Linked DNA regions of Homo sapiens: regions 2 and 3 are each reported to be linked to region 1. Evidence: microRNA targets listed by miRTarBase, many of them from high-throughput screens and not tested one by one. Region 1 holds a microRNA gene; each other region holds the end of a gene's coding sequence.

Evidence for each region. The annotated mature microRNA hsa-miR-6838-5p reads AAGCAGCAGUGGCAAGACUCCU and lies in region 1 at 2,144-2,165, opposite strand. An mRNA with a match to its seed (bases 2 to 7 or 8) in the 3' UTR can be bound and repressed. Matches are read on the target gene's strand: a 7mer-m8 pairs with bases 2 to 8, a 7mer-A1 pairs with bases 2 to 7 and ends in A, and an 8mer does both.
Region 2: miRTarBase lists EIF4EBP3 as a target of hsa-miR-6838-5p. The part of its 3' UTR that is shown has no 7-base or 8-base seed match.
Region 3: miRTarBase lists JPT2 as a target of hsa-miR-6838-5p. Seed matches in the 3' UTR shown: 7mer-m8 at 915-921 and 7mer-A1 at 1,002-1,008.

The regions. Positions count from the first base shown.
Region 1 is chr7:44,071,264-44,074,510 of GRCh38, forward strand. MIR6838 (microRNA 6838) reads right to left here and starts at 2,170; the gene lies at 2,115-2,170. POLM (DNA polymerase mu) reads right to left here. Exons shown (of 11, transcript NM_013284.4): 7 at 3,135-3,247; 8 at 2,868-2,970; 9 at 2,520-2,762; 10 at 2,362-2,445; 11 at 799-2,114. The coding sequence ends at 2,028. RefSeq lists enhancers at 2,836-3,035, 3,106-3,175.
Region 2 is chr5:140,548,546-140,551,792 of GRCh38, reverse strand. It overlaps EIF4EBP3 (eukaryotic translation initiation factor 4E binding protein 3), which reads right to left. Exons shown (of 3, transcript NM_003732.3): 2 at 2,717-2,887; 3 at 2,217-2,559. The coding sequence ends at 2,531. It overlaps ANKHD1-EIF4EBP3 (ANKHD1-EIF4EBP3 readthrough), which reads right to left. Exons shown (of 36, transcript NM_020690.6): 35 at 2,717-2,887; 36 at 2,217-2,559. The coding sequence ends at 2,556. SRA1 (steroid receptor RNA activator 1) reads left to right here. Exons shown (of 5, transcript NM_001035235.4): 4 at 624-732; 5 at 882-1,725. The coding sequence ends at 1,093. Among named protein-coding and RNA genes, the nearest start is that of EIF4EBP3, 2.5 kb to the right of the region's middle. RefSeq lists an enhancer at 3,061-3,247.
Region 3 is chr16:1,698,453-1,701,699 of GRCh38, forward strand. JPT2 (Jupiter microtubule associated homolog 2) reads left to right here. Exons shown (of 5, transcript NM_144570.3): 5 at 359-3,247. The coding sequence ends at 546. Among named protein-coding and RNA genes, the nearest start is that of MAPK8IP3, 6.1 kb to the right of the region's middle.

The sequences.
Region 1 (3,247 bases):
GATGTTCAACGTTATCAGGCATTAGGGAAATGAAAATAAAACCACAGTGAGCTACTGTTATGTACCTACTACTAGAAAAGCTAAAGTTAACAAATACTGCAACTATCAAGTGCTGACAGGGATACAGAGCAACTGCCTACTGTGGTGTTTAACTTACAGGGGTGCTCACAACGCTGGTGGACTGCAAAATGACAGACGCACTCGGGACAACAACTTGGCTCTTATGAAATAAACATATACTTACCAAATGACCCAGTAATCCTGTGCCTATTTACCCAAGAGAAATGAAGACCCATGTGTTACACGAAAACCTGTACATGCATGTCTGTAGCAGTACGATTCATCATCTCCAAACCCTGGAAACAACCCAGACTTTTTTTCTTTTTAGGCAGACTCTTGCTCTGTCGCCCAGGCTGGAGTGCAGTGGCACAATCTCAGCTCACTGCAACCTTGGCATCCCAGGTTCAAGCAATTCTTATGCCTCAGCCTCCCGTGTAGCTGGGAATACAGGTATGAGCCAACATGCCCAGCAAATTTTTGTATTTTTTGTAGAGATGGGGTTTCGCCATGGTGGCCAGGCTGGTCTCAAACTCCTGGCCTCAAGTGATCCACCCGTCTCAGCCTCCCAAAGTGCTAGGATTACAGGCATGAGCCACGGCATCCGGCCACAACCCAGACATTCAACACCTGAATGGATAAACTGTAGAACACCCATGGCATGGAACAAATTACAAACTCAACATACCCAGCAACCTGCAGGAACGTCAAAGGCATTAGGCTGTGGGGAGAGGCCAGTCCAAAGGTTAAATATAGTTTGGTTCTATTTACATGACATTCTAGAGAAAGCAAAACTATAGGGATGTAGCACCGCTAAGTGGGTGGGGGTGGAGAAGCACATGACCACAATAGGACAGCATGGGAAGTGTTCTGGGGATGGACCTGGTGTGCCCTACGTGTGCAAAAACTGCACCCCAAGAGTCAACTTTACTGCATGTTTTCAAAATATTTTTTAATGTGATGAGTGGTCTGGGAAATCCTCGCCTAACAAAGTGGCTTTTGATTCAAGGCCTGAAGAAGGGGAGGGCCCACTCCAGGTAGATGACATGGCCAGGGCAAAACCTGAGGCCAGAGTGTGCCTGGGGATATGAGGGACGTGGAGGGCACCCATGTCCAGCCCACCTCAGTGCTTCTGCCTCAGTGAGAAGGGGAGGGAGTTGGCCACAAGGGGGCCTGGGTGCATCAAATAGGAAGCCGGTGAGTCAAGCAGCTCGGGGCCAGTGGGGCTGGAGAGATGCCAGAGCCAGGGGCTATGTGTGGACTTAGGGTTTGGAACCATTAAAGGGCTCTGCGACGGGAGTGGCAGGATATGACCTATTTTTGAGACATTGTGCTGAGAACAGGCCTTAAAGGCAGAAGCACAGAGCCTGGCTCGGGGCGCTGCAGTACTGAAGCCCCATAGTTGAAAATTATCTTCCTCCCAGCTCCTACCCAGGCCCTCTCCCTCTCCAGATGCCTACAGCACACCAGACAGTAGGCTCCTTGCTGGCACGAACCACAGCCTCCAGCTCATGGCTCTCAAATGCAGTGCAGGTATGCATGGTTCTCTTCTGGGCATTCTGGGCAGGGTGCCCTGCAGGAGCCACAGTTAACTGCAGTGCAACTAATGAGACACTGCACATCAGGGACCACTTGCCATTCATGACTGCAGGCCCCACCACAGCTCCACGATGTGGGCCCCACTCACATCCCATCCAGGGCAGGAACGTGAGCCATGGGGAGGCTAAGAGCAGACCCAGGGTCACACAGTGATGAGGCTGGCACTGAGGGCTCCCACCTCATCACACCCTGCAGCACACCAGCAGGGGCTCAACTGATCCTGCAGGCACAATTGACCTCCGGAAGAGCCAGGCCTTGGCGGGGAGGGGTGAAGGTGGGGGTCAGGGGGCAGCATATCTGCCTGGAGACATTCAGTGGCCAGGTTGGGGGCAGCCCAATTTCCTGAGTGGAAGTGGGGGACACAGGCAGGCTCAGGCGTTTCTCTGCTCTGGAGGAAGGTACTCAAGGCCCAGGTGTCTGAAGATGTCTTCCTCTGAAGCCGCTTGGAAAAATGTCTTCTGCAACAGAAGCAGGACTTCCGTGACCTAGGAGTCTTGCCACTGCTGCTTCCCTGCAGGAAGACTGAGGGTGGGGAAGAGCCCAGCGCCGAGGTGGGGTGTGCTCTTGAGGGCCAGGAACTGTGTGTGGAGACCCAGATTCGGGTCCTATGGGTTTCAGGCTGGAGGGGTCTGGGGCCATTTCAGATTGTGGGTCAGGGAGCGGACTATGGGTGCTGTTTGCTGTCCCCAGTCCCCAACAATGTACCTGCTCCGGGTCAAACAGCCCATGGCTGTTCAGCCACAGGCCCTTCTCCTTCCGGCTGAAGCGGCGCAGCTCCCGCTGGAAAAGCTGTAGGGAAGGGATTGTCCTCAGCAGGGCTGGCCCAGCCCCACCCCCAGGCGGCCCAGCGGCACACTGCCTACCTTGGAGCCAGTCCAACCGAGCAGGGCGAAAGGGAACTGGCTGACGGGTGCAACTACCAAGTCCACTCTCACGGCCTTCCAGGATGGGCAGGGCCTCGTGGATCCCCCCACAGCAGCCCCTGGAGGTTGTGGTAGGCGGAAAATGCAGAAACTTCTCTCAAAAGCGTCCATGTGGCTCTGTTGGGCCAGGCGGGTAGGGGACTCACAGCAGCTGTGCTGGTGCTGGTGGTACAGGATGAGGCCCTGTGGGGAGAGGCGGGCGTGGCTGAGACCATCCGGTGGTGTGGAGAGAGCAGGAGGCAGTGGCATTGGCCAGCGGTGGCTCTTGGGGAGCAGGGAGGCCCTCACCTGGTCCTGCAGGCGGCACATCACTCTAGGCAGCAGCCCCGCCTCCTGACCCTCCTTGGGGTGGGTGATGAGGAAGTCCACGTCATGGCCCTGCAACTTCCCCCTGAGGGCGTCAGTCTGACTCTGACTCAGGGACACGGCCTGCTCACTCCAGCCCCAGGCCACATCCCTTCCAACGAGTGGGCCCGCTTCAGGGTCCCCGACTCAGGTCCCTTCACTGGGGAGGGGTCTGAAGCCAAGCCAGAGGGGCACGTCGGGCCTTCTTACCTGCGGAAGCCGCCGGTCAGCGTGACGGTGGCCCCAGGCAGGGCCTGCCCCACAGCTTCCTCCACCACCTGCTGCAGGGCATCTACATCGGACCGCAGGACTGGGGTGCTCAG
Region 2 (3,247 bases), not on the chromosome of region 1:
TTTGAAGACCAATCAGTAGAAGATGCTGTGGGAACAAGAGTTGAATTCAGCTCCTATTAGTGAACAACCTGATTTTCTGTATCTCCATGCCATTCAGAGCAGAAGCTGCTGATTTTATTCTCAGGAAATTTATATTGTGCCCAGTTAGGGAGAAAGAAACCTCTTCTAGCTATAGTGTTTTCTTAGTTCTTAGAAAAAGAGATCTGAAGAATGTCTTAAAAGAAAGGGAAAGTAGCATGGTCATTTCACCTCTTTGGCGCTTAGTTTTCTTTTTGTGAAGTAACGCTACAGGATGAGCTTCTGAGAGTCTGAGAAGCCCCTGAAATTTTAGAATTCTAGTCATAGTAGGAGGTGGGTTAGGAAGACTGGTGGTGGGAAGATGAGAGAATTCCTGTTTAATGACCTCTACTTTTCAATGAAACATCAGGCAGTGTCAGAAGAAGACAGCAGGGAAAGGAAGGTTTCATCAGTTTCTCAGTGGGGCCTCTAATCTTTGGGTAAAGAACCAGAATTCTAAAGTGTGGGCCAGAGAAAGCAGGTGCTTCCTATGTGGTGCTGTCTTCCCCTCTCCTCCCCTCATTGGGCTGGCAGCACTGAATTGGAGGGGGGCTTCTGTCTCTTAGAAGCAGGTATGTGATGACATCAGCCGACGCCTGGCACTGCTGCAGGAACAGTGGGCTGGAGGAAAGTTGTCAATACCTGTAAAGAAGAGAATGGCTCTACTGGTGCAAGGTATGGGTGGGTTCTTTGGTATAGCCTAAATCCCTTTCCTGCTGTGGTTGGCTATGCTGGAGCAGGTGCTGAGATTTTGATTGACTGGGAGGGGAGGCATGGAAGCTCTTGTACCACAGGCTGCTTGCTCAACCCCCGTCTCTCTTCAGAGCTTTCAAGCCACCGGTGGGACGCAGCAGATGACATCCACCGCTCCCTCATGGTTGACCATGTGACTGAGGTCAGTCAGTGGATGGTAGGAGTTAAAAGATTAATTGCAGAAAAGAGGAGTCTGTTTTCAGAGGAGGCAGCCAATGAAGAGAAATCTGCAGCCACAGCTGAGAAGAACCATACCATACCAGGCTTCCAGCAGGCTTCATAATCCTCGGTTCCCCAGACTCACCGGACACCATCTCCTATGCCTTGGAGACCTTCTGTCACTTGGCTCCCTTCTTACCACCACCAAGACTGTCCCACTGGGCCTGACCCACCTATGAGGGAAGAAGTCCCACCTGGGCCAGAGGGAGTTCATGTGTTACTCATAACATGCATTTCAATAAAAACATCTCTGCGGTGGGCCTTGGGTAGGAGAGATGAACCCTTCCGGTGCCAAGCTAGTCCCCTCTGGTGTCCTCGACTGCCCTGCTCCCTGTGTATCTGCAAACCTCTGTTCTCCCTTCTCCATTCATCAGGAAGGGATCTGCTGGGTAAAGTCAGACTACTGCCTACCACTTTTTCCCAAAGTAGACTGAAAGCACATCCTGTGCTGGGCGGAGCAGCTGTGTTTGGATGGTTTCATTTCAGCATGAGAACAGACTCAAATAGAACGGGGAGACTTTTCCCTCAACAAAAGGAAAGACAGTCCTATTTGCACTGTATCACCCTTGAGATACTACTGTTACAGAGATTAGAACCACATTGAGTGGGGTTTTCTGTGTAAATCGAAGGAGAAAAAGACCAGATTACTGAGATTGGGGATTGTAACTCTGACTTGCCAAACAAACTGCTGCCTCATTTTGGGTTTCAGTGTGAACTCTAAGGTCTCTTGTAACCCTTTGAGAGAGGTACTTGGTGGACTATCATGCTGTGAGAAGGGTACAAGGTTTTTGGTGTTGGAATAGAGGAACTGGTGCTTAGAGGTGGGAAGCAGAAAAGGCACAGGGAGAGACAGGATGGCTATAGGCTGGGACAGCACCTCTTTTCCAAGAGTCCTGCTTTGGAATGGATAGGGGAGGGGCTGCTGGGGGGCCCTGGTTCCAGGAAGGCTGCTTCCTGGGAAGACAGGAACAGCCCTTGGCAGTGGCCAAGCTATTGCTGTTTATGGTTTGGAGGCTCATGTAACCTGCCACTGTAGCGTGCCTCAGGTTCTAATTGCTGCTGGAAGTGGGCCTGGTGGGAGCTGGGAATGATCTGAGGCCTCTGAGCTTAACCAGGCCTGCCAGGGCCTTCAGCTGTGTGGCTGAGATGAGAAAATCAGCATTGAGGAGAACACTGGAGCCAAGGCATTTCTTTGAATGTTTACTAAGCAGTCAGAAGGTGACTTACTCCATTCCCCAGTTCCAGCCCCTGAGCATAGAGGGTTTAGGGTTAGGAGGAGTACCACAGACTGAAGAGGAAGTAGAGTTAAGGGCTTGGCAAGTTGCCCACTCCTATCCCTGGTCTAGCTGCCTCAGAACTAAAGGAGGCCTGGAACTAACAAGTCACTCCCTTCCAGATTAGATGAGGCCAGCTGGCCTTTGGATGCCCCAGGAAGAGGTGGTGGCAGCAGTGGCATGAGGGATCCCTCTGTAACTCCACATGCCAGGTCATCTGCACTGGATTAGATGTCCATTTCAAATTGTGCGTCATCTGGAGAGAGAAAAGGCAGGAAGACAGGTTGCTGGTCTGAGGATCTGCAGGCTCAGCATCAGTGCAGAAACCCCTCTTGGAACTGAACCCCCGCACTGTGTCACAGTGGCATTTGAACTCAAAGGCTGGGACAATTCTTAATTCCTGCTTTCCTTACCGGGTATCTCTTCCTCTGTCTCCTGCTCCTTCAGCTCCTCCAGCTTGGAGAGAGGGGCTGTTGGAGGAGTTGTGACCCCGGGAATCTGAGGGAGGCAGCAGGGGGGTGTCCGGGCAATGGGTGAGTTCTTGCACTCCAGCAGGAACTTTCGGTCGTAGATGATCCTGGTGCCTGTCAAGGGGTTGGGACTGAGGTAAGAGTCAGGAGCTTGGGTACCGAGGTGACTGGGGTCCCAGACTCAGGCCTTTTGGGGCCTGGAGGTGAGGGTGGTGTCAAATTTCCCTGTGTATCAAAGGACATCGGCTCTGAAGCCCAGCTAGGTTCTCAGCAGACAAGCCTTCATAGTGCTTAAAATCTTCCAGACCTAACCAAGATGTGGGTATAAAGCAAGGGGGGCATCCCAGCTGGTATAGGCAGGGGCTTTATGTTTGGGAGAGCTTCAGATCTTGGCTCTAAGAGGAACACCAAACTTTGAGTTCAGGTACTTCATGCTGCTCCTCTACCACTCTGAAACCTCTGCTTTGGTCTCAC
Region 3 (3,247 bases), not on the chromosome of region 1:
GATGCATTCCCTCGCCGCCTCATGGTCACTCTCAGGGGCTTGCTTTCTATACTTGAGATGGAAGAAATGGGAGTGGTGTCTAACAAGCAATATAAAGAAACAATTCACTTAGGAAGAAATCAAGGAGTATTTACAGTAGCAAGCCCCAACTTTATGCCCATTTCAAAACTGCATCTGCTAATTACAGTGAGTTGTTTTGGTACCAGATGAAAAGCCTGTCTATATTGTCTTCTCTTTCCCAGTTACAGCATGAATTTCTTGCAGGTTGCTCTATGACACACTTTTTATTTCCACAGCCTGCCTGTCAGGGTCATGGGTTGCCTCTAATGGGATGTTGTTCTAACTTTGTGTCCCACAGCTGCAAGGAGCATCCCGGCTGGAGCAGAGCCAGGTGAGAAAGGCAGCGCCAGAAAAGCAGGCCCCGCCAAGGAGCAGGAGCCCATGCCCACAGTCGACAGCCATGAGCCCCGGCTGGGGCCGCGGCCTCGCTCTCACAACAAGGTCCTGAACCCACCGGGAGGCAAATCCAGCATCTCCTTCTACTAAGAGAAGCCACTGCTCCACCCGGAGCCAGACCAGAAACTCAAGAGATAGGGTAGCCATGTTTTCATTTCCTTTTGCCCAAATGAGCGGGGTGGGAAGAGGGTTAGTCTTATGTGAGCCTGGCTGCTCAGCGTCTCCTGGCCGTCATGACAGCTGCTTGGAGACCCGTGCCTTCCAGATGGCTGGGAGATGCCTCTGTGGGGATGAAATGGGGCACCCCTGGCCATCACTCATGTGTAGTCCAGGTTTGAGAGGAACTGGAAGGGGGGTGAGGGTGGGGAGGTGGGGCAGGGCATGGTCCTTGGATCAACAGCCCGCCAGCTGATTGGATGTCTAGGAATGACTGAAAGAAACCAAAACAGCCTGTCCACTGCTGCTGTGGGATGGAGGAGGCGTAAGCAGAAACACTAACAGTATATTGACCTCTTAGCAGAACCGCTTCCATTCTGGAGATCACGGCTGCTAAATCCAGCATCCCCACTTCATTTTACCCCCAGCATATTGTTCTGTAGTCTTTTCTTGAAACATCTTGATTGCTTTTCCTCGGCAGCTTTCAAAAAACCAAATAATAATAGTTATCCGTCTTCTACTTCATGGAAGATTGTTTTGGTGCCCTGACCCTCTGAAGTGCCCAGTTCCTGCCATCTGAAACCTCGGCCTGATCTGATCTCATGTTGGAATCTGCCTGTCTTTCACACAGGGCTGGTCTTGGTCCTTTACATGCCAGTTTTGCTTGTGAATTCTTGCTTTTTTCCTCTCATCAGCCTTAAGTTTAGGCGTTTGTTGTTCTCCAGTGATGTAGACAGTTCCCTTCACAAGTCACAGTTCTTCCCATAAATGAGGCCCGCTGACCTCTGCGGGACTTTAAAAATCTATTCAGATATTTCCGAGTAAGTGGCTTGTTTAAATTCTTCCTGTGTCTTTCTTTATTCCTTAATTGGTTGGTGGAAAGAAGAGATGCTTGGGAACCTTGGGTTCTTAGGTTTGGATTCTTTAATAATATCTAAAAAGCTAAATTTTAAATACCAGCTTTACATAAATGATTGTTGACTCTGGTCTGTTTCTGACACCTTTCCAGAAAAAAGTCAATTGTTCAGGTACACCAAAGAGGAAGAAGAGCTGTGGAGGCCACCCTCTACAAAGCTTTATAGAACTTCTGGATCTAACTCACAAACAAGCTTCCAGAAGAGACTAGAGACCTTAGGCCAGGAGATGAAGGAGTTCAGTAGCAAAGTCACACCTGTCCAATTCCCTGAGCTTTGCTCACTCAGCTAATGGGATGGCAAAGGTGGTGGTGCTTTCATCTTCAGGCAGAAGCCTCTGCCCATCCCCCTCAAGGGCTGCAGGCCCAGTTCTCATGCTGCCCTTGGGTGGGCATCTGTTAACAGAGGAGAACGTCTGGGTGGCGGCAGCAGCTTTGCTCTGAGTGCCTACAAAGCTAATGCTTGGTGCTAGAAACATCATCATTATTAAACTTCAGAAAAGCAGCAGCCATGTTCAGTCAGGCTCATGCTGCCTCACTGCTTAAGTGCCTGCAGGAGCCGCCTGCCAAGCTCCCCTTCCTACACCTGGCACACTGGGGTCTGCACAAGGCTTTGTCAACCAAAGACAGCTTCCCCCTTTTGATTGCCTGTAGACTTTGGAGCCAAGAAACACTCTGTGTGACTCTACACACACTTCAGGTGGTTTGTGCTTCAAAGTCATTGATGCAACTTGAAAGGAAACAGTTTAATGGTGGAAATGAACTACCATTTATAACTTCTGTTTTTTTATTGAGAAAATGATTCACGAATTCCAAATCAGATTGCCAGGAAGAAATAGGACGTGACGGTACTGGGCCCTGTGATTCTCCCAGCCCTTGCAGTCCGCTAGGTGAGAGGAAAAGCTCTTTACTTCCGCCCCTGGCAGGGACTTCTGGGTTATGGGAGAAACCAGAGATGGGAATGAGGAAAATATGAACTACAGCAGAAGCCCCTGGGCAGCTGTGATGGAGCCCCTGACATTACTCTTCTTGCATCTGTCCTGCCTTCTTTCCCTCTGCGAGGCAGTGGGGTGGGATTCAGAGTGCTTAGTCTGCTCACTGGGAGAAGAAGAGTTCCTGCGCATGCAAGCCCTGCTGTGTGGCTGTCGTTTACATTTGGGAGGTGTCCTGTATGTCTGTACGTTGGGGACTGCCTGTATTTGGAAGATTTAAAAACCTAGCATCCTGTTCTCACCCTCTAAGCTGCATTGAGAAATGACTCGTCTCTGTATTTGTATTAAGCCTTAACACTTTTCTTAAGTGCATTCGGTGCCAACATTTTTTAGAGCTGTACCAAAACAAAAAGCCTGTACTCACATCACAATGTCATTTTGATAGGAGCGTTTTGTTATTTTTACAAGGCAGAATGGGGTGTAACAGTTGAATTAAACTTAGCAATCACGTGCTCAGAGCTTTTGCCTGTCAGTTGTGTGTGTCCCTTATAGTCCCTTCCCCCACAGCTCTTGCTGAAAGAGTTTGCCTTGTTTTGTTTTGTTGTTTTGTATTTAGCCAGAGGATGCCAAAATTAGTCTTCTCAAAGCTTTGAGTAGAGTAAGTGTGGGAATAAGCCAGTTTTTTTTTTTCTGTTTCTGTAACTTAAATGAACGGGTTTTTTTCCCTTGTATGCCACTTGTCCTAACATGTCCTTAAGGTGTTTAACCTGCCTCTGACCTGGCTTGCAAT